Linked DNA regions of Homo sapiens: region 2 is linked to region 1. The links come from fine-mapping of genetic effects on gene expression. A gene starts in region 1. The other region holds a variant in brackets. All regions are shown on one strand. Distances are from middle to middle.

Region 1 (2,500 bases):
AATTTTTGTCTTCATTTGAACATGTTATTACAAAATTTCTTGGTAACACTGTTTTTCAACCGTGTTTTCAAATTCTTAAATGTTTATGCAAACTAGTGAATTCAACGATTTTAAGTTAGCCAGAAGAAAAGTTTAAGGTCTACAAACTTATACATTGGAAAGTATACTGGACTACTTTACAGTTTGGAGGCACACATAGCCTATAAACACCTCGACACACTAGAAAACACATTGTTCAGCCCTCCGCCCCAAATCGTTCACGATTAGAGACTGTGACGTTTCAAAAGGTATACAGGTGGAAAAAAAACACCTATTTGAGTAAATATAGTTTGTAGCTCGAAATAAAAGATGCAGACCAGGGGCCGGACGCGGTGGCTCATGCCTGTAATCCCAGCACCGTGGGAGGACGAGGCGGGCGGATCATCTGAGGTCAGGAGTTTGAGACCAGCCTGGCCAAAACATGGTGAAACCCCGTCTCTATTAAAAATGCAAAAATTAGCCGGGCGTGGTGGTGGGCGCCTGTAATCCCAGCTACTCTGGAGGCTAAGGCAGGAGAATCACTTGAACCCAGGAGGCGGAGGTTGCACTCCAGCCTGGGCGACAAGAGTGAGACTCCGTCTCAAAACAAAACAAAAACAAACAAACAAACAAAAAAAGGTGCAGACTGTTGTCACGGTCAGGTCTCTATTCACTCTTGAAAACAAGATTGACAATTACCTCCTTTAAAAAGCAGATAACTGTCCCTGAAGATGCGAGGTTACTGAAATGAGATGTCAGAGGTAGACCTTCAAGACTATTCCTAGCCGACCCACCACCACCCCACACAGTGAACAGGGAATACTAAGCTCAAATATTCGTCCAACGTAATCCTGTAATCAGTGGGGTGCCGGGTTGAGCTCGCAAATCCCCGCTGCAGGACAGGGCTCTGCACCCTCAATCTTCTCATCCCCAGATGGGATGGGCGGGTCGGGAGGAGGAGCGACGAGAGCCCAGGAAAGCTTGAAGGCAGAGATAGACTCACGTCTCTAAGACATATACATAATATAGCCGCAACCGCGGCGGCCTTACTTTCCCGGAGCTGCATCCCCTTTTAGGCGAAGAGCGGAGGCGACCAGGGACTACCCTAGGTGAAAGGGCAGCCACCTGGCCCTACCCGGGCTCAACGCCGAGCCTCTCGGAGGTACGGCCTCCCGGGGACCTTCCAGACTGGTCGGCGCAAGCGAAGGGCGGGGACCACCGAAGGAGTGTGTGACTTAGGCATCCAGCGCACTGCCTGACCCGAAGTACCGACCCGAGTTATGCCCACCCTCCAACTTTGCGACGGAAATGTGTCATCGAAAGCCAGGTAACCAGTGGGCCGCGGCTGGGCCGCCGGGGCAGGCTAGGGGCGCCGCGGTGGGCTTCGGGGCCTTTGGGGCCGTGGGCTTTTGCTGCCGCCCGCCCCTTCCGGCTCCTCCCTGTAGAGCAAAGGGCACGTGAGCGAGGCGCCCGAAGCCGTCGCGGCGGGGACCATGTTGCTTCCGAACATCCTGCTCACCGGTCAGGGCGCGCGGCCGGGAGGGACTGGGCTGGGGCAGGCTGGGGGCGCAGAGTGCTCTGGGCATCGGGCGCCCAGGTGGGGGCCCCTCACTGCCCTCTTCAGAGGCCGGCCGAGGGCCACGAGGCGGTTGTCAGCGCCCCGGGAGCCGACCCTCGCGGGCGTTGCGGGAGGCGAGGGAGGGGACGCGGAACGTTAATTCCGTTGGCCTGAGGCTCCGGGGGGGGGCGGGGGGGGGTGGAGAGAGGTCGGCAGATCCAGCTCTCCAGCTTGGCAACCTGCTTAGTCTTTCTGAATCTGGTATTTCGTTTGTAAAATGGGTTGTTGATTCTTTGGCAGGGTTGGCCTTGGGATTTTTAGCGAAATAACGTAAGGCCATATCTGCTTCCCGGTAGAGTCATTAATGGTGGATGCCTCACTCCTTAGGCCTCCGTGGGCCGTATTTTATTTTTTCTTTGCTTCTGATAAACGCCTCAGATTAGATTTCGGTAAACGAGTTCAGATGTTTGTGACGTGACGAAATTGCTGTATGCTTTTGTTGAGTTACATCAAAGGATCCCCCCGCCCCTTAAAAGGAAGGCATATAGAGCATTTCGGGTCGTTTCTCGCGTAGGAGTGGGTCTTTGAAGCCATACTCAGGGTGCATGTTATCAGTGAAGGGAATTAAAATGCTGCATAACGACTTTAACGAATATTTTTGCTAGCCGTTTAGTCCTGAAAGTGTTTATCAAATTGTAGGCCATTCGTGGAAAAATCTAATGCATGTAGATTTTATTGCAAGGTACAGAAAAATTAAGACTCTTTGTGGGAACAGTAAAGTTACATCATTCACCCAAAGGTAAAATTGTTGGCAGCGCACAAGACATGTCTGTTTCTGAGAGGTGCAGATTAACCACCCCACAAATAACGTTTAGAATTTTAGATTCCTTAAGCGGAAGATTTTACATCTTTTTGCATGGATCA
Region 2 (3,022 bases), 180 kb after region 1:
GAATTAGAAAACTACCATCTTACCACTCCCAGGGAGATAAATGTCAGGAAAGTATAATTAATGAGTGCTAAAACTAGAGACCAGCACTTCAGAGGAATGTTATAGCTAGTGGTTACCACCTTAACCAGATGGTCAAAATTGGTATCAAAAATGGTATAACAATCTGATGTCTGATTCTAATATAATGCATGAGTTGTACACATCACCTATATTGCCAAATGTGTAACCTGAACTTAACTGTGCTGAAAACATGAGACAAGAAATCCAGACTGAGGAACATTCTACAAGACAATTCATGTCTATGTCCTGAAACACAGAAAACAGGGCAGTTGTTCTATATAGAAAAACAAACCATGATTGAATCTTGGATTGGAAAAGGAAAAAAAATAAAAGCCCTAATACATTTTTGGAACAACTGAGGAAATTTGAATATGTTCTGCATATTAGATATTAAGTTACCAATTTTCTTAGTGTGATAGGATTGTGGCAGGGTTTTTTTTTTTTTTTTGATTTTTAGAGTCATGGTCTCACTCAGGTTGAACCACAGGCCACCATGCCTGGCTAATTTTTGTAGAGACAGTGTCTTGCGCTGTTGCCCAGGCTGGTCTTAAACTCCTGGCCTCAATTGATCCTCCTACCCTGGCCTCCCAAAACACTGGGATTACACCGCTGGTGTGGTGGCTCATGCCAGTAATCCCAGCACTTTGGGAGGCTGAGGCAAGAGGATCTGTGGAGCCCAGGAGTTCGAGACCAGCCTGGCCAAGATTTAAAACAAAAACAATCATGGGATTACAGATGTGAGCCACTGTGCTAGCAGAAAGATGCCTTTTTAACATGCCACATCTTCAGTAACATTAAAAATCACCAGGCACACTTGGTTTATCAACCAAGGAAAGCACATACCTTTCCTTCTTTTCTTTACTTTCCTTCCTTTCCTTACTGTTCTGAGGCTTTTTAATAAAATTTCACTCCTGCTCTGAAACTTGCCTGGGTTTCTTCTTCTGCCTTATGCCCCTCAGTCAAATCCTTTCTTCTGAGGAGGCAAGAATTGAAAATTCTTAAAAAAACACCCAACATCAAGCTGACAAAAAATAAATAAATAAAATCTCAAAAGATATTGACTGGCCAGGTGCGGTGACTCACACCTTTAATCCCAGCACTTTAGGAGGCCGCGGTGGGCAGATCACGAGGTCAGGAGTTCGAGACCAGCCTGACCAACATGGTGAAACCGCATCTCTACTAAAAATACAAAAATTAGCCAGGCGTAGTGGCATGCGCCTGTAATCCCAGCTACTCAGGAGGCTGAGGCGGGAGAATCACTTGAATCTGGGAGGTGGAGGTTGCAGTGAGCCAAGATTGCGC[C/T]ACTGCACTCCAGCCTGGGTGACAGAGACACCATCTCAAAAAAAAAAAAAAAAAAAAAAAAGAAAAGAAAAGAAAAAGAAAAAGATATTGACTGGCCAGGTGCGGTGGCTCATGCCTGTAATCCCAACAGTTTGGGAGGCCGAGGCTGGCAGATCACTTGAGGTCAGGAGTTCGAGACCAGCCTGGCCAACATGGTGAAACCCCCTCTCTACTAAAAATACGAAAATCAGCTGGGCATGGTGGTGAACACCTGTAATCCCAGCTACTCGGGAGGCTGAGGCAGGAGAATTGCTTGAACCAGGGAGGCAGAGGTTGCAATGAGTCGAAATTGTGCCAGTGCACTACAGCCTGGGCAACAGAGGGAGACTGTCTCAAACAAACAAACAAAAGTACACTCCACAGGGTGGTAGCAGGCCAAGCATAGGGTCCCAAGAGCCAGGTTACAGAATTTTCTGGGGTTTAAATACCCTCTAGAGGTTTCCCATTGGCCACTTGGTATACACCCCATGCAAATAAAGTAGTGTCCCACAATTAGTATGATTGGTTGTAGAAAGCAGCCAATCAGAAGTACTTTCCACTTTCCATCTGCCACACAGGAAAAGGGGGGTGGGGGTTTGCAAAGGGAGTACCCTCAGGTCCATTTGTTACTTAAGTGTGGAAAGTTGGGGTTTTCCTTTTGATTTAGTTCTAGGAAGTCAGCGTGAATCTGCCTTAGGTTCCCTGCCTCCAGACCCTATTCTATTGCCTCACTTTCATGACTAAAATATAGAAAATATTTAAACTAGAAAATAAAGGAGATGGTGGGAATAATGTAAAAGCTACAACCACAAAATAAAAATGGTAGAAATGGTAACACCAAAAACTAGTTCTTTCAAAAGGCCAATGAAATAATCTCATGGGCAAGTCTGATTAGAAAACAAAAGTACTCAACATCAGGACTGAGAAAGAAGATATAACTGTACATTCAGAAGAGATTAATTTTGTCATGGTCCTCTACAACTATAACTTTAAAAATCTAGAATGGATGATTTTTTTTTCTTTTTTTTTTTTGTAAGAGGCAGGGTCTTGCTGTGTCACCCAGCTTGGAGTGCAGTAGCATGAACATAGCTCACTATAGCCTCAAACTCCTGGGCTCTAGTGATCCTCCTGCCTCAGCATTCTAAGTAGCTAGGTCTACAGGCACATACCACCATGACTGCCGGGCTAATTTTTTAAATTATATATATATTTTTTCTAATAGAGACAGGGTCTCACCATGTTGCCCAGGCTGGTCTCAAATTCCTGGGCTCAAGCAATCCTCCTGACTAGGCCTCCTAAAGTGCTAAGATTCGATTTTTTATATTTTTTTAGAGACAGGGTCTCACTATGTTGCCCAGGTCAGTCTTGAACTCCTGGCCTCAAGCAATCCTCCTGCCTCAGCATCCCAAAGTGCTGGTATTATAGGCATGAGCCACCAAACATGGACATAATTTTCTATTGTTGCAGGGTGGGGGCGGGGGCCAGGGGAACATCTCTAAAAGAGCGATTATATCATACAGAGAGAAAAATTTTTAGAGACCAAAAAAGCATGGAATATCTACCATTTTATTTTTTGAGACAGGGTCTCACTCCCACACCCAGGCTGGAGTGCAGTTGCGTGATCTTGGCTCACTGTAGTCTT

Which allele goes with the higher level. Positions count from the first base shown, and alleles are read on the strand shown. Sizes are in standard deviations (SD) of each study's normalised expression.
For the expression in testis of the gene that starts at base 1,482 in region 1, T is the low allele of the variant in region 2 and C is the other (moderate effect, 0.67 SD a copy in GTEx).

What was found. PIP is the estimated chance that this variant, and not a neighbour inherited with it, causes the effect. A credible set is the group of variants that fine-mapping cannot tell apart.
Region 2: its variant is the best candidate, but not a certain one, in a credible set for the expression of AK6 in testis (GTEx, PIP 0.51).

Annotation. Positions count from the first base shown.
Region 1 is chr5:69,368,502-69,371,001 of GRCh38, reverse strand. It overlaps AK6 (adenylate kinase 6), which reads left to right and starts at 1,482. Exons shown (of 5, transcript NM_016283.5): 1 at 1,482-1,539. The coding sequence starts at 1,512. It overlaps TAF9 (TATA-box binding protein associated factor 9), which reads left to right and starts at 1,482. Exons shown (of 3, transcript NM_003187.5): 1 at 1,482-1,539. It overlaps RAD17 (RAD17 checkpoint clamp loader component), which reads right to left and starts at 1,184. Exons shown (of 19, transcript NM_133338.3): 1 at 1,069-1,184. RefSeq lists an enhancer at 381-930.
Region 2 is chr5:69,183,752-69,186,773 of GRCh38, reverse strand. The region is part of intron 1 of LOC112267932 (a long non-coding RNA gene); the gene reads left to right. Among named protein-coding and RNA genes, the nearest start is that of CENPH, 4.3 kb to the left of the region's middle. The variant C/T (reference allele first, on the strand shown) is at 1,363.